Regions from separate parts of the Homo sapiens genome. Here regions 2 and 3 are each linked to region 1. The links come from fine-mapping of genetic effects on gene expression. A gene starts in region 1. Each other region holds a variant in brackets. All regions are shown on one strand. Distances are from middle to middle. Region 1 holds the start of ENC1 (ectodermal-neural cortex 1). Region 2 overlaps LINC01331 (long intergenic non-protein coding RNA 1331). Region 3 overlaps LINC01331 (long intergenic non-protein coding RNA 1331).

Region 1 (7,432 bases):
CACCAAACCCAGATAATTTTTTGTATTTTTTGTAGAGACCGGGTCTCAAACTCCTGGCCTCACCTGATCCTCCCACCTCGGCATCCCAACTTAAAGATTAATTTCTAACCAGACAGCTCTACCACTGAAGAGTCCTAAAAGCACCCCAATTTCAACATTAACCATATATTGATCAGCAAGCCTTTAGTCAAAGCACAGAATAAATTCTGGCCATAATCACCAACTACCTGTCTTGCTCGGGACAGCTTCCAATGTGAGGATTTGGCACATAAAAAGAAGAATATTTTGAGTAGCATACTTATGACTGCTGTTTTCTGTTCTTCCCGCTTTATATCAATTCTTGGAAAACCAGCTGCAAGAACAAAAGATCCATCCGTCTTTTGATTAAATAGTGCATCACTAGGACTGTTCCTGTATACCTGCAAATGCTGACACCTGCATAGAAGGAGTTCAAAATGCAAACACTGCTTTATTTAAATCAAAAAATACGTGTGTGTGTGTGTGTGTGTGTGTGTGTGTGTGTGTGTATTTTGCCAGCTGTTGTTAATTTAGGGCCACCCCAGAATTTATTTGCTGACTACAGTGCTTTCCTTGGTATCTACATTGAAATTATAGTAGAATCTAATGCTATCTTTTGGTTTTCTTCAGTAAGAAAACAGTAGGGTAGAGACATAGGAAATGCTTGTCACCCATCTTCAAAAACTGAATCACATGCCTTCATCCTTTTCTTTTACACCATCCCTCTGTTACTTCAAAGGAATGAAGTCCTCAAGAACCTGCCTGTCCAAGGATTCCTAAGGAAGCTGTTTATCCCGCTGTTTATCCCCAGAGGGTAAACTGTGTGGCTGGTTGCAGTATCTGTTCCAGACACATAACAGCCAGTCCCAAAAGCGCAGCTGAAACTCTGTTTCCTTTAACCATTCAGACATTTTTAAATGCATATTCTAAGAATTATTAATAAATGCAAATGAATGATTTGCCACAGATTCATGGGCTAAAATACTAACCTGCACCTCCCCAACCAGATGTGAGCCCCACTATAAGACTGCACAGAAAACCACAAAGGCAGGGGCATGACACATATACCTCATACCATTAGGTGATGCAACTAGTTTTCTTTCCTTTTTGGAATATAATTTTTTATGATGAGTAAACATGGCTGAGTGGAAGAAAGGAAGCAACAAAGTCCTAGAGCTCCAGTGTTAGGAAGACTTTACAAAGCACCCAGTAATTTCCACAGTGACTTGAGATATAAAAAATGGTGAGGAGCCAGCTTCACTCCCACCTCAAGCTAAGCATCTACTGTCTACTCCATTCTAACCAATGCCCAGTGTTTTGGAGAATGACCATATGAACCTATGGGAATGCATCAGGTTTCCAAAGGGTTAAAACATTCATTAGCATTCTCAATGCTCCACCACTGTAGTTGCTATTTTAATTAGTACATTCAATCTGGAGTATCTGGAGGAAGACTTTAAACCTAAACCTCAATAGACTGTCTACTTACTCTTGTGAATCTGCCGCCTCTCTCAGAGCAAATGCTGCCCTGAGTGAAGGAAGAATGAGGCTCCCTGAAACTAGGTGCACAGGCACCAAAATGCTTACACATTGAGCTGGAATCATGCTAGGCCCAGAACACATTTCCTTGAACATTAAATTCAGGATGGTGCAAAACAACATTCACAACCAGACTTACACCTAAGAAAACAATTTGCTTAGAAGACCTTAGGATATAGGATCTACATCTCTCCGCATCCTGTGTTTATGCTCCTGTATGTTCCAGGTTGGCCCAACAAGCCAGAAGGAAGAGCCTAGCCTGTCATCTTGGATACCACCCAGATGGAAAAGCACGTCACAGTCAAAATCACAATCAACATTCTTGCAACAATGTTTGATTAAAATAAAAAGTAAACTTGGAAACCCAAGAGGAAATACTTGCTTTCTGGTTTAAAACTGTGCAAACCTCAAAATATCAGCAGAAACCATGTATACAAGTCACTGAACACACCTTCAACATAAAATGAATCATCTTTCGAGCATTTTTAAGCCCCCAGAGAAATCACATTTGCATACCAAGTAAGTGGCCAAGAAAATGCACACATGTACTTAACCTACGTCTGCAAAGAAGACAGAGAAAGGGCTGCTATTACTGTGAACATCAAAAGGGCTTCAGTTACAGTAACTTCAGTTCACTTCATGCTCCTAACTCAGGCTCTCTGCCTCCAATGCTTAGCGTCCCGCACCCTTCTCCAGGTTTTGAACCTGATCTCAATCCAATCAAAAGAGAAACTAAGCAGATTTTTTTCTGGGCATTTACATTACCGGTAACAATAGAACATTATAAAGATCTTGTTAACAAAAGTAGCTTCTTGCCAGAGTCTTTTTATTAACACTTGCAACGCTATTTAACAAGCTGGCCATGCCTGTGTGACACCAAACCGCATGTGGATAAATTCAGTGTTTCATCTCCAGGCCCACCAATTCCTATCCTTTGTAACTAATAATGTTAACACGACAGATCAAGAAACTAGTTTTTCAGAAAGCAGTTTTCATTCATTCTCTATAGACATTTCCGCCGCAGTGAACATGCCCGCACTCAGGGTGTCTGTGCATGGCCCCAACTTTCCTCCAAGCCGGGGAGGATGCAACGTGGGCCAACCATCCCGCGCGCTCGGCCCTGGAGGCTGCGGGGAGCGACGCAGCGCGACATTCACCCCCAGGAAAGCGCTGCTTTCCGCAGAGGAGAGAGGCTGACTGTATCCTTAGCTCGGCTCCTCGCTTCCCCAGCGGCTCGCCCCAGACATTGCACCGCGGAGGGGAGGCCGGTCGACCTCTCCGGCGATGCCCGGCTTCTGCCTGCTGTGGGAGGGCAGCGGCGGGCACCGTGATCTCCGCACCGAGAAGAGCTCCCCTTGCCCTCTAGTCGAAGCTCCCGAGTGCTCGGAGCACGCTCACCCCTCGCGAACACACCCCTGCAGCCGAAGCAGCCCCTGAAGCCCGCAGCGCCTGCAACAGGTCCGGGGCAGTGGGGGAAACTTACAGCAGTGGCGACTGGCCGCAACGCACAACTGAGTTCTAGCGACGGTCACGGGCAAGGAGGCGACGAACCGGTCGTCTCAGCCCAGGGAAGCGGTGGCGAATGCCCCGGAGAAAGGAGGGCCAGCCGGGGAGAGGACTGCGCCCCGAACGATGGCTCGCGGACCGGCTACCGATGGCGTTCGCCTCCGTCTGTCGTCCCCACGCCGCGGACCCGGTGTCCAGGACCCGCAGAGCGTCTCCGGAGCGCGTCACGGTAGGGCAGAGCAAGCCTGCCACTGCAGGCGCCGCGGAAGGAGGCGGGCTGTGCGCTCGGGGGAGGGAGCTAGAAAGCGCCTTGTGTGCCGGCGGCCGCCAGGCGTCTGGACCGGGTCTCCGCAGCGCCACCGCCGCACCGCCTCCTCTCCGGCTGCCAGAGCAGTCTGCGCCCCGCCGCCGTGCGCCCCGCTATAAGTGGCGCGGCGGGGAGGGGAGGGGGCGCGTATGCAAAGAGACCGACACCGGGGGAGGGAGGAAGCGCATTAGCGCGGCCTGTGGTGTAGGAGGAGGAAGAGGAGGAGAAGGAGTGGGAGGAGGAGAGGAGCTAGAGAAGAGCGTGTCGGGGGAGTTAATCGGGAGAGGAAGCGGGAGAGGGGGGCTGCGGGGAGTGCAGAGAGACAAAGCGGACGCACTGTCTCAGCCGCTGGCAGCTGCAACCCCGGGAACCGAGAATAAAATAAGTTTTCCCGGGTTCGAGTGTCTGCGCCTCTTTGGGCCAGCCTGGTTAATGGACAGCCCCGGATCTGAGGGACCCACCTTAGGGGAGCGCAGCCCGGGGCTGTGCGCTTGGTGATGCCAGAGCCCGCGAGATGCTCTAAAAAGGGCTGCAAGGGGCGAGCTGGGTATCCGCAGGACAGGCCCTGGGCACGCATAGACAGCGCCTTGGGTAGGACACCCAGAGTGGGGAGAGATAGTGGCAATGGACGGGCAAAAGTCTGGACAGTTTAGGGACACTCGGGTTGAGCAAGCCAGGACGTTTAAGTTTCTTGCTGGCAGAGAGCCAAAGAGACTCCAGCCCCAGGCATTTCCTATGTGTCCTCCCTCCCCACTCCCCAGTGGGTGCGGCACCCCCGGCTGGACTCTGCCCTAAGCCAGGCGACTGCAGGGGCAGCCGGGGCGCAGTCCTGCGGGGCGCGCACCACGTGCTTTTCAGCCAATCGCCGCGGCCGCTTGATTCAAAGTGAACTCCTCAAAGCAGCAGCCACGCCGCCTCCTCTCCTAGCGATTAAGCCTCCATCACCTTCTCCTGTTTTTTATCGCTCGGTGGTGTTAGTTTGGAGTTCAGTAAAGAAATGGCCCAGCACACACACACGTTTAATAGTCCCGCGTGTCAGGAGAAGGGAAGGCGATTCGAAAAATAATCTCGCGTGGTGATCACTTTTACGAATCCCATTTATCTTTGCAACTAGAGGCTTGTCTTTCCACTGGGAGTTAAAATATCTGTCTTTTATTCGGTATTTGGAGCTAAGTCTATAAATGAACGGGATAGATGACCGGTCCAGCCCCCTTGTTTTACAGGTGGGGAACCGAGGCCCAGGGAGATGTGAATTGCCTGGCTCGTAGTCACTTAGCAACAATGTCCCAGCTCTGCAGCTCGAGAGTGAGGGCCCCACGACAGAGTTTATTCCGTCCCCGGGTCCCCGCGTCCCCAAGCGCCCGCGCTTCGCCTCCCAGCTTGCTTTAAAACACTAGGCGCAGGAGCGATTTAAACTGGCTAAGGAGGCCCCACATGGCGCTTCCAGAGTCCAGACTGCTGAAACCAAGACTGTCAGTTCTTCATTCTAATTTCATTTTCCTTTATCCTTGTTCCTTCCTGGTATTTGCGCCGAGAAATTTCGCTCCTTGCAAACAAAGAAAGACAGTGCCCTCTGAAGTCCTTTGTTAGCATTAACTCGGCAGCCTCACCACGAACCTTTCAATATATATATTTTTTAATGCAGAGTCTCGGCTTGAGGCTGATTCACAGAGACAGCCCGGATCAATTCATGTCAAGAACCACGTATGGAGAGCCAGGGGGGCTGCGAGGTTAGGAGAGGGCTGGCAAGCAGCACCCAGGTTCTGAAGCAAAGACCAGACAGATGGAAACTCTGTAGACTCCAGAGATAGGTGCTGAAAAGATGGGAGGCGGAAATGTGTAACTATTGCACATATGTCTTTTTAAAACATGTTTCTGTAGCCTGTGGCAAGGTGTGGGGGAGCTCATCAAGGCAGCCACCAACGCACCTTTTAGACACCTCCTAGACCCACTCTGTCTGCTTCCTTTGTGAGTCAAATCTACCTAAAACGGCACCTAGATGACCTTGCCTAGAAATGGACTATGTACATAGCTCAGCTGGTTGGTTGGGGATTTTGCCACAGGAAGCGACAGAACTAGGGACAGGTATGTATCTTTACCACCTAGAAATTGCGGGATGTCCTTAACCAAGGGAACAGCAAAGTTCAGATCCCTTTGCAAAGAACTTTGCTAAGCAGGCAGGGCTGAGAAAGGAAAGAAATCCGCTGGCCATTGTGTCACCATCCGCTGGTGCCACTTTCCTGTATCTTTTCTACCTAATGTTGCCACTTTCTATGCTTCAATAGAAGAAAGGGAAAAAAAGCTGTAGACTGGAAAATCTTGAAATGCATTCAGTGACCGTATACATTCGCTTCATCTGCCTCGGGGAGATAAGCAATACAAGAGAAAAGAAATTAGCTTATGTAAGTCCTAAAAACTGGAAAACATTTTCCTGCTGAAAGTCACAAGAACTAAACTTGCAAGTTTGGAAATCATGGGTGCTACTGATGACCTCCTACAAACTGTACTCTGGTTTGCTTGAGCCAATCTATGACTAGTTTTCGGGCAGTTGGGCAGTTTTTAATGCTTATCTCAGCTGAAAATGATTTGCAAGTTAGCAAATTTATGATCATAGCAATTCAAACGGTGTAATCCCACAGCATCTCTCAGCCAATCCTAAAGGTAACTCTTATCACCCCACTCACACAAAGAAAAGCTGAGCAAGTCTTCATTTTGTACAGGAAGAAACTTCTAAACAGGGCTGTCATCAAAACTGGACGACCATAGACATAGCAGATATCTGAGTCACAAACAAGTCAGGAAATGCTGCTTACACTGTATCCGCATTACACAATAGCCAACACTTCACACAAGACATTAGGCCAGTCCTGTAGGCCCTTGGGAGCAGGTCTTTGCCTCTGTCTTGTGACATCAAACCAAAGTCTCATTTTTTAATGCTATTAAGAAGCTGTGCCCAAGGCTTTGGGCTTGTTATCTCCCCTAACAATGTTATTTTGTTAGGCCGCAAAATAAGCAGCATGCGGTTAAATGTATTAGCTGCCTTCAAACCTAATTTATCTTCATTCCTTCCTAATTTACACTTGGGCTGAATTAATGAGAATGATTTAATTAACACGGTGCGATCATGGTACCAGGGACAGGACAGCTCAGGGAATTAGACCAAACAGTAGGCTAAGCAGCTGCCATCCTGCCTCCGGTGGTCTCCTGAAGCCCCACCCAAATTCAGACATGTTCCCTGCTGGTATTCCAAAAGCGCCCTCTTTGTTTTATGAGGACACTTTCTGAATCTGTGCAAGGAAGATAGCACAGCTTTCCTTCCCCGAGTTATTTGCTAGATGGACTTCAAGGCTGTGTCCTGGAGACAGAGTGTGGCAGAGGGGCCAACTGCCCACCAAAGATTTGTGCTCCCCTTCCATAGTGTCAAGTTCGTGTTGGGAAGTGGACGCCCAGTCAGGGACCACACCTCCCAGTAGCACATATGTTGCGATCAACATCCCTGAAGGGGAAGGGAGGGAAGCAGGGTGGACAGATGGAGATGCTGAGCTGGGATGTGGTCTCAGCCAAGCCTTGGCTGACGCCATGGGGACCTCTGGAGCTGAAATGGCCTCACAGGTTGTCTGCATTTAGGGCAAGAAGGCTTTTATAGGGCTACATCACCCAGTTGCTGAATGCAGCTTGCCCAGGGAAGGGACCATGGCTTTGGGCAAGGTGGTGCTCTTTTGCTGAGGGAGCTGCCAGCACACACAGAGGCTGGAGGAATAAGCCCTCCATTCCCAAAGGAGGATCTGAAGACCTCAGAACAGTGAGAATACAGATATACAAACCTAGGAAAATGAGACCTCAGCTTCCATCAGCAATCCTCTTATTTTTAAAAAGAGAGAGAGAGGAAAGTCTGGCTGTTTATTAAAGAGATGAGAATAAGGAAAAACACAGGTAATCGATACAAGAAATTATCAGCATTTTATAAAACAGTTATCACTTTTTTGTCTGGGGAAGACAAAGGGTCTAAATCGATAGTTTTCTAAATTTTGGTTTGCCATCTTCTATCTTTGTGCGTTAAAA
Region 2 (7,432 bases), 190 kb before region 1:
GCCAGTTTTTACGCTGGAGCCTCCACATCTGTGTATGTGTGTGTGAATGTGTAAATGCAATTTTTCAAGGCAAAGCTAATAGCAAAGTTAAAAAACGGTCTTCAAAATAGAGCTTTGGCGATAATAATCATTTTTAATGGACCTGAAATGTTATTCATGATAAACGTGTTGCCAAGCAAAATCCTTTCCTGTGTTGGGTGATAAAACAAAATTGCTGATAAACTACAATGTCTGTGAAGGGTGAAGACACAGACGGCCGAAGAAATGAGAGCTATCAGAAAATATGAGCCTTCCCAAAGGCTGTGACACTATCTTCCAGTGTTTTCCTCTGCTAGGGCTGGCTGACATGTGCAAAGCTACAAATGACCAACCTTGGTGAAAAATAAAACATGTAAGCTTTTGTAGCTGTAGAGGGAGTGTGGAAGGCAATAACAGTTTTATTAAATGTTTGACTCAAGAATGACAGTTAAAAATAAACAAAACTTGTGTTTCCCAATCAATAGGAAGAAAAACATACTTTTTTCCCTGACATCAATTTCATCTCTCCCTTTCTGTTTAAAATGGGAACATGGGAAGGTGGAGTAGATATACTTTTCCCTATTCCTCCCACTAAGTACAACAAAAAAGCCTGGCTGTTATGTATAAAACAAACATAGAAGACTCTTAAAGGTGAAAAAAAGACAGAACTGTTAGGAACTGTTGGGAGACTGAAAAAACAAAATGGTGGGAAGTTTTCTGGGATGTCTTTTTGCTTCATATATCCAAGCATTGGAGATAAAGAAGCTGGCAACCATAAATGCCATCGATCACAGGCAAAAAGGCAAAAGCAAAAACAAAACCCCAACAAAAGCTTGCTCACTTTAGCCAAAAGACTAGGAATTAGACAGCCTTGTAAGACAGAAGACTTTTAGACAATAACTGCCCTGATACAACCACAGAAAAAGTATGTCCCCAGCTTCAGTCATGCCAACAAAGGCTCAGGGAAAGCCTAGATTTTTACCCTCTGGAGCCTGTTATGGGAGGCTGCTATAGCTTGAATCCGCTCATCCCAAAAAGTAGGTGTGGAAAACTTAATCCCCAATCTAACAGTTTTGGGGGTTGGGGCCCAATGGGAGGTGTTTAGATCATGAGAGCTCCAACCTCACAAACAGATTAATGCTGATTATCAATGGGCTTGAAGCTGCAAGTTCCTCATCTTGCTTTTCTTTGCTGTCTCTTTGCCCTCCCACCATGAGGTGGCTTAATAAGGAAACCCTCACCAGACACTGGCCACTCAAGGTCCCCTATAAGGATTTCCCAGCCCCTAGAATTGTGAAAAATAAATTTATTTTCTTTATAAATTACCCAGTCTGTAGTTTTCTGTTATAGCAACACAAAGCAGACTAAGACAAGCATGCACTAAGAAGGGAGCCAGGACTTTCATCCCTGCTGATTTTTAACATGTCCCACCCTTACTCCAAAATATAGAGACCACATGGGGAACTTGAACTACTACCCTCACTCAGCAACAGTAAGTCATTCCTCTTTCCCTGATAGACTACTGCCATAAACCTGGTGGAGAGTCAGGATGCTCATCATTACCATTGTCACGAGTGGTAACAAGGCGACCTCCCCTCCTGTGCTGTCAGTGGAAGCCACACAGGGAGCAATAACAAAGCATGCCTACTACCCCTCCCAGCCAGGCAGTGTCAGAGAAGCCAGGTAAAGTGCTGGAGCTCCCAGGCCTGCCCAGCAGTTATGAGAAGGGATATGGTTTAGATGTTTGCCCCCTCTAACTCTCATGTTGAAATGTGATCCCCAGTGTTGGAGGTGGAGCCTAGTTGGAGGTATTGGATCATGGAGGTGGATCCTTCATGAATGGCTTGGTGCCACCCCCGTGGATATGAGTGAGTTGTCACCTCTATTAGTTCATTCGAGAGCTGGTTGTTAAAAGGAGCCTGGCATCTACTCCCCTCTCTCTCTGACTCCCTCTCTCTCCATGTGACATGCCTGCTCCCCTTTCACCTTCCATCATGAGTAAAAGCTTCCTGAAGCCTCAGTAAAAGCTGGGCAGATACCAGCACCATGCTTGTACAGCCTGCAGCACCATGAGCCAAATGAACTCCTTTTCTTAATAAATTACCCAGCCTCAGGTATTCCTTTATAGCAATGCAAAATGGACTAACACAAGGAGACCCCCCACAAGTGTTTAATAGATGCCTGTGAGGAACCCAGACTTCTATCTTAGTGTGTTTGTGTTGCTCTATAAAAGAATACCTGAAGCTGGGTAATTTATACAGAAAAGAGGTTTATTTGGCTCATGATTCTGCAGGCTGTACAAGAAGCATGATGCCAGCATCTGTTTCGGATGAGAGCCTCAGGCTGCTTCCACTCATGGTGGGAGGCAAAGCAGAGTCAGCATGTGCAGAGATCCCATGGTGAGAGAGGAAGTGAAAGAGAGGAGAGAGGTGTCAGGCTGTTTTTAACAACCAGCTCTCTCTCTCAGGAACTAACAGAAGGAGAACTCACTCACCTCCCGACCCGGGGGAGAGAATCAGTCTCTTCATGAGGGATCCACCCCCATGACCCAAACCCGTCCCAGTAGGGAAACCACCTCCAGCATTCAGGTCAAATTTCAACATGAGGTTTGGGGAAACAAACATCCAAACTATAGCAACTTCTCTCCCCATCAGCCGGTACTGAGGTGCTTCTTCCCCTCTCCTTGTTTGAGTGGTGGCCGAGGAAGCAAGCCAAAACACAAGGTTTAAAATTCACAGTCTCATAGCATGAGACCCAGAATGTCCGGGTTTCCATCAAAAATCACTC[A/G]TGACACCAAGAATCAGGAAGTTCTTAAACTGAATTTAAAAAGACAATAAAAAGATGCCAACATTGAGTGAACGGAGATATCTAACATCTCTGTCAAAGAGCTTTATCTGACAAAGATTTTTAAGGCAGCCATCGTAAAATGCCTCAATGAGCAGTTACAAACACACTTGAAACAAATGAAACATAAGAGTTTTGTCAAGAAAATAGAAAGACATAGTAAATAAATAGATGATATTAAGAGCCACGTGGAGGGTGTTTGTCACTTGGTTGCTGAATTCCACTGTTCTCCCCTAGACACTCTATTTGATATGCAGTTATCTATTTGTTGTTTTGCCTGTGGAGGAGATGAGTGCTGGGTGCCTCTGGTCAGCCATCTTGATAATGCCCTTTCTTTCTGTTATTATTTATTACAACTGCATGTAAACCTATAATTATCTCAAAATAGAAGGTTTAATTAAAAAATAAAAACAGGTTGGATGCAGTGGCTCACACCTGTAATCCCAGCACTCTGTGAGGCCAAGGGGGAGGATCTGCTAAGGCTAGGAGTTCAAGACCAGCCTGAACAATATAGTGAGACCCTGTCTCTATCAAAAGAAAAAAAAAAAGTAAACAGTGCACCTTCTAAGGCAAACAACTTCATAAATTATGACCAACTATCTAACGATTTTGGATCCCTTTTCCACCCTCCAATCTTATGCTCATTAAAGTACAGTATTTACATTTAAAATTGTATTAACTGAGATAAAGTACAAAATTAATTCTCAATTCAAGGAGACACAGCTCTGTTCTGTGGACAAAGGACAGGAGAGAACAACCTAAGAATAAACAACTGTACTATTTTTCTGGCTATGTAATTCAATTTAATGCTTATAATTCTTTAGGCATAAAAATGCTTAATCTTTAAGATTAAATTTATTAATTCAAATGCATTTATATATCTACCATATGGCCAGGTTTATATTTGTTTCATTTATTATTTCAGACCTTCTGGTAATAAAGATCTCTCCGCCCAGAACTGGACAATCACTAAACCTCCTTCCTCTCCCACCCCCACCTCTAATATTAGTAACTCCAGGTCCAACTCCAGCTGTCATCTGAGAACAAACTGTTATGAATAGAATAGTACCTTGTGACCATAACAAAATAACACCATGATTCTATCATTAACAAAATAATGTGTTTTCCTTTACATCAACATTGCTGGTGTAGTTAGTACCATACAAAACCTAAGAGAGACACGGATGGATTACTGGGCAATGAGACGATAAGAATTATTTGGAAATTACCATTACTCTTTACTCATCTCCTACTCCCCAGAGCCAATTTGTGTGCTATACTTGGGGGAAAAAATGCTGGGTCACAGAAATTGCTTTTCCATAGGTCTGGCAACTGTGTGAAAGGCCTAGGGATGGGCAATAATGTATTCTAAAATAGCATGTGCTTTGTCAAAAGTTCATTTGGAGGCCAGGTGCCGTGGCTCACGCCTGTAATCCTAGCACTTTGGGAGTCTGAGGCAGGCAGATCGTTTGAGCCCAGGAGTTTGAGAGCAGCCTGAACAACATGGTGAAACACCTGCTCTACAAAAAATACAAAAATTAGCCAGGCATGGTGGCTCACGCCTGTAATCCTAGCACTTTGGGAGACTGAGGTGGGCAGATCATGAGGTCAGGAGTTCGAGACCAGCCTGACCAACATGGTGAAACCCCGTCTCTACTAAAAACACAAGAATTAGCTGGTGCGTGGTGGCGCACACCTGTAATCCCAGCTACTCAGGAGGCTGAGGCAGAAGAATCGCTTGAACCCAGGAGGCAGAGGTTGCAGTGAGCTGAGATCACGCCATTGCACCCCAAGCCTGGGCAACAGAGCAAGACTCTGTCTCAAAAAAAAAAAAAAAAAAAATACAAAAATTAGCAGGACATCATGGTATGCACCTGTTGTCCCAGCTATTTGGGTGGCTGAGGTGGGAGGATTGCTTGAGCCCGAAAGGTCAAGGCTGTAGTGAGGTGTGATCACACCACTGCACCTCAGCCTGGGTGACAAAGTGAGACTTTGTCTTACAAAGAAAATAAAAGAAAGAAAATTCATTTGGGGGTTTACCAAAACAACTGCCTCAAAGTCAACTGTGAAAAAGATGGTGAAAACTCACTTGTATTATTCGGACCCTGTCACAAGAATCATGCATTTGGAACTGGAATTCCATCATAACCATCCCCAAATCCAATTTTTTGTGTGTAGGGAGTGAGGACATAAGTGTGACATATTATGAAGAGAAATTTTTATAAATTTCAAGGAATTCTTATAAGATATAACAGCTTTTAGTCAACACAGTTTTGGATGAACTGAGTGTAAACAAATATAAAAATGGCTATTAAATTTCCATTCAGATTTATGCACATGGGTTTAATATTAATAATTAAGAAAAGAAAGCTGGCAAAACAAATGTAAAATTTAGCCAAACCCAAAATGCTTGAAAAATAAGTCAAGGCTTTCTGAAAACATAGAGCACTACTGGCTTACCCATCCCTAGTGACAAGAAATTGAGAAATTGAAACTAACTCCATTTAAATATTCTCTCTGCCCCAACAAATGCTACAGTTCATTCCTGCCAAGGAGCCCAAGAGACTGGCTCTTTAGTGCCAAGAACAAAGCATAGGTCTTCACATGCCCCCCATTCTGTCAGGGCTCCATGCTCAGATGCCACAAGGGTGGAATTTTCTCTCTTCTACCTCCAACCAGGTGACATGTTCTTACTTTTGAATCTAACTTTCTTACCTCTGGTTCTTGAAAAATATATCAGTTCACAATTTGGAGTAAAAATAATTATCAACCCTCTGGAACCCTAGGCCTGTACCTATCCTGACTTGGAGTCCCTTTGGTGACGTTACAAGACCTAATATGATTTCATAAGACTGATGCCCCATAATTGCTATCAAATCAACATAGCAGGGCAGAGAAGGAGGGGTGGGGCAGACTTGCCATACATTGATAGGTGAGAATGTCCAGGGTAGGAATGTGTGTAGTTAAACTCTATCAATTCTTAGCCACACCTGCTTCTAACAGGGTTAACACAACTGTAATACGTGATATTGTATAGAACTCCACAGTTTATCAAATATTTTCATCCACATTATGTCATTTAATCTTCATGATAACCCTTTGAATAGAGTATTGCCATTCTCCTGATGAGGGGACCACAGCTCAGAGAGGAATCTTCTCAAGTCAGTAGTTAGTAAGGAGCTGCCAGGACTTGAACCCAGGGATTCCAAGTTCAGTGCTGTTATCAGTCCATTCTCACACTTCTATAGAGAACTAACTAAGACTGAGTAAGCATGTCTTACATGGGGGAGAAAGAGAGAGAAAGGGAAATGCCACACACTTTTAAACAACCAGATCTCATGAGAACCCACTCACTATCACAGAAAACAGCAATGGGGAAATCCACCCCCATGACCCAATCACCTCCCACCAGGTCCCCCCCGACATGTGGGGATTACAACTCGACATGAGATTTGGGTGGGGACACAAATGCAAACCATAACAAGGGCTTTGTCCACTACACTACTGCTGAGGTAGGGCAGAGCCCTACACAGTAGCTGATACTCACTCAATGCTTTAAACGCTTAACCCATATGTACTTAAAAAGCCACATGCTCTCCTGGAACTCTGCTGCTCAGATCCAAACTGCTAAGCCAGGAGCTCAACATTACCATGAACGTGTTGGTATTTTACTCTTAGACGGCATGGATCAGAATGTTTCTATGTGAAAATCTTAGAATCTCCTCCATGTTTAACTCCATTTTCTACCATACAAGATCCTAAATACTCCATAGATATCAAAGCCATCTCTGAAAAAATGTCTGTCAAAATGTTTTTAAGAAATTATGGTGCCTGATGAACTGAGGCTTTTATTGCATTTTTTAGAGACAGAATAAAAGAAATATCTATCTGAAGTTTAAAGAATTTGTATAGTGGTTTGTTTGTTTGTTTGTTTGTTTTCTTTCCTTGAGACATGATCTGCACCCAGGCTGGAGTGTAGTGGCATGATCTTGGCTTACTGCCAGGCTCAAATTATCCTCCCACCTCAGCCTCCCAACTAGCTGGAACTACAGGTGCGTGCCACCACACCTGGCTGATTTTTTGTGTGTGTATATTTATTTTTTTGTAGAGACAGGGTTTCCCCATGTTACCTAGGATGGTTTCTAACTCCTGGACTCAAGTGATCTGCCCACCTCGGCCTCCCAAACTGCTTGGATTACAGGCATGAGCCGCCGTGCCTGGCCTAGTGTTGTTTTTTATTAGCCAAAAGATATCTAGTCCTCTCATTCAAACCTGGGCAAATAAATTAAGTTGCGATGCCACTATATACCTGCTATACTTTATATTTCATTATGATTGGAATATAAGACTATAACTCATTAAAGAAGTGTGTTTTGTTTCATATTAACTGTATAAAATAGTTCCCTAGAAGTCATTTGAATGAGGCATGCACTAACTTAAACTTTATCCAAAAGCCAAACCAGCTGATTTTATGAGTATCAGAAACAGGTTTATTTGTATAATTTATGAAAATAGTTTTTATTTCCTTTCACTCTTGCATACTTTGGAAATATTTTCTTGAAACTGGAAA
Region 3 (7,432 bases), 130 kb before region 1:
TTGGGTCATGAGGGCCCTGCCTTTATGAGTGGATGAATCCATTCATGGATTCATGGGTAAATAGCTTATCATGGGAGTGGGACTGGTGGCTTTGTAAGAAGAGGAAGAGAAACCTGAACAAAGATGCTCAGCCCCCTCACTATGTGATACCTGCACCACCTCAGGACTCTGCAGAGAGTCCCCACCAGCAAGAAGGCTCTCACCAGGTGTCCCTCCTTGACCTTGGACTTCCCAGCCTCCAGAACAGTAAGAAATAAATTTCATTCCTTATAAATTACACAATTTCAAGGTATTCTGTTATAAACAACAGAAAATGGACCTAGAGACAATTCTCCATGATTCCCTCACTTTCTGCATGTCTTGTTAGCAAGACATTGACTGCCTTTGTTCTGGACTACCTTTTCAAAAGTGTTTGTATAGTGAATAATCTTGGAAGACAGAGTGTCTCTCTCCAGAGTTTGCTTCCCATTATAAGATATATAAGATCCCGTTTCCCTCAATGAAGGGGTCATCTCCTGTAACATAATCCACTCCATGTATTGGTGTCACCTGGCCTTCCCATCACACTTTGGGGATTGAGGCTTGAGGAACTGGGACAAAAATGCTAATACTCTGGCTACTGCTTTTGCTGTGAGGGATAAACTGTCCTTCATCTCTGACTGAAGAGTCTCATGTCTTCTACCAACATCCATGAAACTATGGCAGACCACCTTGTTAACTTGTAAGTAGGGCTAAGTCTCAGACCATTCACAGTTCTTGACAATATATTATAATAACAACAAGTATCAAGCTACCTTTCAGCACACATGTAAACATTTATTAACAAACAGGCCAAAAAAGTCATGTAATCTGTTCTTTTAATGGGTGAGCTCCTGCTTCTCTGTCCTTTAAGCATGTCAGCAAACACTTTCCATGAAAAGTTTACCTGAGGTAGATGTGGCCATATTCTAGTGGCAAGATTAAGCTAATATTCTATTTGGATTAGGTGACAGAAGCATCTATCAAGTGGCAGAACACTGGACTAGACTGAAGCTCTAAACCAAGTATCCCACCACTCCAAAGGGTATTAGGCTTTTGGACTTACCAGAGTCTTGTCTTCTGTTCATGCAATTGAATATTTCTACTCAATGCACATAAATAGAATGTCATTCAGCTCCCCAATAAAAAATTTCTAGCATCCCTTATAAGAATTAACAAATTCTCTAAGGCAGATCTAGATGGGCCTATTTAAAGTCTACTTATGGTAATGGCCTCTGGGTATGAATTCCAAATTAGGGTCTTTCAAATGCTCACTTACTACCCTAGAGTATGAATCCCTGATTAGGAGGTAACTTCAAATGTTTGATCTATCCTAGTTTATTATAAGCAGCAAATCATGCTTGGTTCACACTGTCTATTCTGAAGTATGTTCAATTACAACACTTTAATGGAAGCATTTTGTTTTTTAAAGATACAGCTTCTAGGACACAACTCTTCCCTCTTTCCCTTCTCTTGGGCTTTCTCCATTATAGGAAAAAAACAGTTGGTTAGTCGGCACTTTTTGGCTTGCAGAGCCAAGGGTCTTTGGCACAAATGGCCTCCGATGAGTGCCAGGTACAGTCTCATGTTATTCAGTTGATTTATACCCTTAAGCCCAGTTTAAAACCCTAATAACTCTCTTTCTCCTCCCTTCAAGTTACCTAGCTCATTTGCTAGCCCTTGTCATATGGCAGCCTCCTAGTACACTACCGGGCAGGCTATCCCAGGGTCATGGAATAGAAAGAGTCACAGACTCACATATTTGCAATAAGATGCTGATATTGCACAATGTATTAAATTTATTTAAAACACATGGCAAGATGTAAGGGGAACTAGACAGGCTAGGTTAACACACTTAGGGTAAGGTAAATATAAGCCAACTGGGAGGACCACACTGCCTGATTCCTACTTACACAATTGTTCATATGCCTTGTCTCTTTCTCCTCCACATGAGCCTCCTCTGCTACTGATGTGGTTATAAGGACCCAAAATGAGGTTTAAAAAAAGAGGCCCAGCAAATGTAATGTGCTTGGAGCTAAGATGTGCTCATACTCCACAGAGATCTGAGGGCAAGTAAAGCTGGCTATAGCTGTAACTTGCCAAACAGCCTGCTGAGCAACTATAGATTTTTATTTGCATTTTTGGGGTCAAGTACATATGGGCCCATAGTGGGTATAATGGATGTTCCTATTAGGTGCCAATTTAGGGATGGCATAGCTGTCATCCCAGAAGTGACCAAATCATATGATTTAATCTTTCTGTTTCTTCTTTATCTAAAAGTATTCATCTTATTTGTTCCATTATATATTCCATTCCATTCTTAACACATCTTTCAGGTTACCCACTACCTATATTTAACATATACCCACTACCTATATTTTGCCCACATTGCACAGTCTGCTTGCTTCTTCTTTATCTGCATGCCTAACACAGCTAGTGAGTTTTGCCTATATCACATGAGCTACTTGCTTACACAGCAATGTGTGCTTAACACATCTTATGAGTTTCAAACATCCTGTTTATTTTTCTTGTATTTTTTGAATATTCTCAATAATATAACCAATAACCAGCACAGATATCCTAAATGAAAATGTAGACTATAAAATGGTGCATATAATGATTGCAAGTACATAAGAATATGAATGTACATGAATAATAATTGGAAGATAATACATAAAAATAAAAAAATATGCTGGGGTAGTGGGGTCATGAGTAACTTTTGTTTTCAAAACTTCCTTTGACATCGTTTGTATAATGTGTCCTTTTTTAACTTTTATTTTAAATTCAGGGGTATGTGTGCAGGTTAGTTATATAGGCAAACTTGCATCATGGGGAGTTGTTGTACAAAATATTT[C/T]GTCACCCAGGTATTAAGCCTAGTACCCATGAGTTATTTTTCCTGATCCTCTCCCTCCTCCCACCTTCCATCCTCTGATAGGCCCCAGTGTGTGTTGTTCCCTTCTATGTGTCCATGTGTTCTCATCATTTAACTCCCACTTATAAGTGAGAACATGTGGTATTAGGTTTCCTGTTGCTGCATTAGTTTGCTAAAGATAATAACCTCCAGCTCCATCCATGTTTCTTCAAAGGACATGATCTTCTTTTTTTTGTGGTTGCATAGTACTTCATGGTGTTATTGTACCACATTTTCTTTATCTGGTCTATCATTGCCATTTAGGTTGATTCCATGTCTTTACTATTGAGAATAGCGCTGTGATGGACATACACACGCATGTGTCTCTATGACAGAATATTTTCAGTAACATTCATTATTTGTAAATAGGCTAAGATTCCATATAATCTATATATAATACTCCCTTCTGACTAAGCATGCAAATGAGGAGTATTTAACTGCAAAACCTATCTCAAGTTTAAGGAATTTGAAGAAGTAAATTGAACTCTTAAGGAAGAGTTTGGACTCTGAACCATTTATTTGTATCTCGAAGAAAAGGCTTTAATGATACAGGCTATTTACATATTTTACAGCACAATTTTTAGGCAATAGATTTAGCCATAATTTTTTATTTCATTTAAAAATAACTACTGAATACAACCCATCTGGCAATATTTTCTCTTCCTATTTATAAGCCCATTTGAAGTTTCAAGGTAATACAGAAAAAATCAAAATTATTTATGTGTTTTTGAGTAGAAATTTCCCCTTTGCTTGATTGACTACAGCAAAAACTAAGACTATGGCTCTAGCTCTATGTTGATTACCTTCTGAGCCAGTTTCCAGAGTGCCAAGCGCCCTTAGTTATGATGCCACAGGTTCATCTCTTACATTCATATTTTACTATAAATCAATGGGTCTCTCAAAACAGAGATTTAAAGGGGTCTCAGAGCTTCTAAATCGTTAGAATCTTTTAAAATACAACTGGTTTCCCAATCAGTGTTCAGAAATGAGAGCTCCTCAGTGGATTCCAGCTAAAGATCTGCCAAAGCCACTTGCAGTTTAGTGAGAACTGAGCTATCCTTTCATCAAATAGCCTGGCAATTTAGCAAAGTGTGATGACATGAATAGATAGACTCATTCGCATCTTATCTTTTGAATTCTGCTCAACTGCCCAAGTTGAAGAGTGTGTAACTTGAGCAAGGGCAGGCATCCTTAACTTGAAATTTCCAAATGCCAAGGAAAAAAATTTAGAATGTCCTTGATATGTATGGGGGTTATTTAAAGCACTCAATTGCTCAGACAACTAAAAGGTCCATTACAGGCAGAAATAATTTTTAAGTTAAGTTTGAGCCTGTTCAAGTAGAGCCTCTCTCCTAGTATTTGTCACTAATAGTAAGTGTCCCAGCTAATGTACATAATGCTTGTTTTAAATCTTCTCACTCTATCAACATGTAGTGAAGAAAAGCTGTTAGTCCATCATAGTTGTGCTGACCAAAGCAATCATTCTAGTAAAATCATACTGCATTTTTGTTTGCTCAAAGCCAATTTTTTAAACACCTTATTTGTGTAAAGAACCTTATAAATACAGAAACAGTTTGTTTTAGATAAACAACAATTCTCACTGAGAACTATAAATTTAGTATTAGTTGGCAAATAATAGTAGGCATATGAATTATATATATGAGAGAAATAGGTTTAAAAAATAGATTAGCCACATTACTAAGGGGCTTATACATTATCATGAAAATATTCATCTTGAAGGATTATTTCAACTGGGCTGCCATTTTTTGGAATCATTTTGGAATTATTGTTGTCATTGCTTTCAGAGCCATTTTACATGAAGAAGATAATATTAGGATATTACAATTAGGCCTACTTTTTTTACTGAACCTGACTCCTAAGGACTGTGGATGGTCTTTGAGAATCAATTTACCTTCCAAGCATAAAGACTTTTCCTCACTGAATACAGTCGGAGAAAATGACAGAGGGACAAGGGGGAATTTTCACTCCACTTTGGAGCTACTTTGAAAGGGCTAACACTCACTTACTTGGAAGAGTATGCACTGGTGTGTTGTGTTGTTGAAAAATAAATTAGGTCCCTTGCTTCATGGTTTCCCTCTGTCCGTGCTGAGAATAAGGGAGCTCTCCTAGCAGACTAGAGTCTCCCACAGAGCACCGTTTCACAGGACTGTGAACAAGAGTGTCACAAAGGATCAGAGGGGTTCCTACAGGGCATGCTGCCACTGTGGAGCTAAAGAACAGCTTTCTGGGGCTCCAGCCTTGCTTCAAACCAGCCTTGTGGGGTACTCCTGGAAAAGGGACTCTTCTAAGCCTTCTCTGCTTGTTTACTCACCATGCAAAATTGAACCTCCGGTGTGATGGAGCCCAGCATCCCCTCACCACTTGTTTGGGGCCAAAAAGAAACCCAGGACCAGGAGGATGAGGTTACCCAGTGCCCTGCAGATGGATCAAGAGTTATAACACAGGTCGGAGAACATGCTTCACAACCTTTAACTAGTTATTACAGTAACAAAAAGAACAGCCTGGAGAAGCTACTAAACAAAAATAGTGCAGTCTACCTTGAGCCAAAGTGCCCAATCAGGGGCCAGGAAAGGGGCAAACTAAGTGTCCTTTGTTTTCCAGCCAGGATAACATTCAATTTATAACTGTCCCAAGGACAGAGTAAAAAGTTCAGTTCACAGGATCCATCATGCCTTCACAGTAGTCTGTTCCCTCATCTCAGGATTTTAAAAACTCCCAAAGGCACAATCCCAAACACATACCAAAGTCTTCCCCTATGAGTTCTTGCTATTGACTCCTCAACTCATGGCCCATTACTACCTAGAGAATAAGAAATGGATTTGTCCAAAGATTTCCACCCCAGTCTATCACTCTCCCAGCCTACGACTCTATTTCTCCTTTTTCCCATGGCTAGTCACATAAAAGCAGTGGAGGAACATCTCAGGGTTCAAGGTTAGGCTAACAGACACTGTTCTCTGCAATTCAGTTAACGGGACTTGCGCTTTCAGCATGAACCAGTTTCCTTCCATGTCCTCACGTTTCCACTCTGCCGCAGCCCCACCAGAGGATCATGCTCCTTTCCAGCAAGTTCATCTACTTCCACTCCAGGCTTAAATTGAGCACTCTCTGAGCTGCCTTAGTCACAGAAAGCAGGGACCATTCTGCTCGGCCATAGGTCCACTTCTAGGCTTTACACTCCTACACCTCCTTCCTAGCCTCTTGATCCCAGGCTGGACAACATGCCCTGGATTCTGCCACAGAAAGTCCTCCGGGGAGACAGCCAGGGAATAGAACAACTCCTGAGCTTCCCAAGCTGCCTCCTGTTCCCAACACAATCATTCCTCTGTCTGCTCACTGGCCCTCTATAAATTCTTCTTTGCAAATTTCACAGTTTCTTCTCCTAGGAATTAGCCTTCAACATCACAAACAGGAATACCCCAAATAAATACAGGTCACCAACTATTCCATCCAGTGAATATCCCAATCTACACAACCTACCCACACAAAGACAGGCACTTGTGTACTTTGCCCCTATTTCCTGGCATGTTTTAATTCCCAAAACATCCATTGATAAATATTTGTGGAGAAGCAAGCCTCTGGATTTCCCTCCTGATCTGACAGCACACTAAAAAGCATTAGGTTTAAACCCTAATGATGAATACATCAGTAACTCAACAAGACGTTCCATAAACATTGGGATTATATTTATTTATTCCACTGGTCACCACGAAGGTCATGCTATTCTTTCCCTCCCAATGCTAATTCCCCCACTTTGCAAACACACCTGCCACATATTTCTCATCTTGAGGCCTATAGGCTGCACACTTCTTTCAAATATGCCTTGATGCTCTCCTACAAGATATGGCTACACTGCTTATATAACACAGAATTGAAGCCTTTATACCCCAGGCTTAGAGCCTACATTTGCTCTGGGCCAATGCTACTCAAACCACAGGGTAGATCAGAATTACCTGGAGGGCTTGTTTTAAAGGCAGATTCCTAGGTCCCATCTGCTTTGGATCTTAAGAATCTCCTTTTGTAACAGACCTGTGATTCTAAGAACCACTCTGAAAAGCACTCGTATTTGGTGTCTTAGGTGTTTTAATATATTGTAAATCTCTTGAGGCCAAGGCTCACTCCTTGTTCTTCTTTGCATCTTCCATAGGCTTTAGTACAGCTTCCAGGACACAACAGGCCTTTAATAAATTTAGGACATTTAGGACTTCTTATCACTTACAGTATGTTACATTGATCCTCCAACATTATCATGCCTTTTGTAAGAATGCTAAACAAGGAGCTGTTTAAGAAAAAAACAGGTGTGTTTTGAGGTGGTGTGTGTGCAGGGATGATAAATTCATCTTCCCACACTTGCTACTCTCTCTTCTCATAATAAAACTCCATGTGTGAAGCCTGGCCATTACCTTCTCAGCAGGAGCTAGTGAAATGTTAACTTTTAGCTAGCAATTAGTCGACAGACCCCCAGATCACTTATCTATTTTCCCA

What was found. PIP is the estimated chance that this variant, and not a neighbour inherited with it, causes the effect.
Region 2: its variant is the best candidate, but not a certain one, in a credible set for the expression of ENC1 in whole blood (TOPMed, PIP 0.66).
Region 3: its variant is the best candidate, but not a certain one, in a credible set for the expression of ENC1 in whole blood (INTERVAL, PIP 0.66).

The regions. Positions count from the first base shown.
Region 1 is chr5:74,637,267-74,644,698 of GRCh38, forward strand. ENC1 (ectodermal-neural cortex 1) reads right to left here and starts at 3,462. Exons shown (of 3, transcript NM_003633.4): 1 at 3,041-3,462. It also overlaps a transcript of HEXB not described here. RefSeq lists enhancers at 2,911-3,270, 3,732-4,447, 4,448-5,161 and silencers at 3,311-3,570, 6,078-6,372.
Region 2 is chr5:74,450,573-74,458,004 of GRCh38, forward strand. All of the region lies in intron 2 of LINC01331 (long intergenic non-protein coding RNA 1331), which reads right to left. Among named protein-coding and RNA genes, the nearest start is that of LINC01331, 82 kb to the right of the region's middle. The variant A/G (reference allele first, on the strand shown) is at 2,806.
Region 3 is chr5:74,508,873-74,516,304 of GRCh38, forward strand. All of the region lies in intron 2 of LINC01331 (long intergenic non-protein coding RNA 1331), which reads right to left. Among named protein-coding and RNA genes, the nearest start is that of LINC01331, 24 kb to the right of the region's middle. RefSeq lists an enhancer at 7,130-7,432. The variant C/T (reference allele first, on the strand shown) is at 2,873.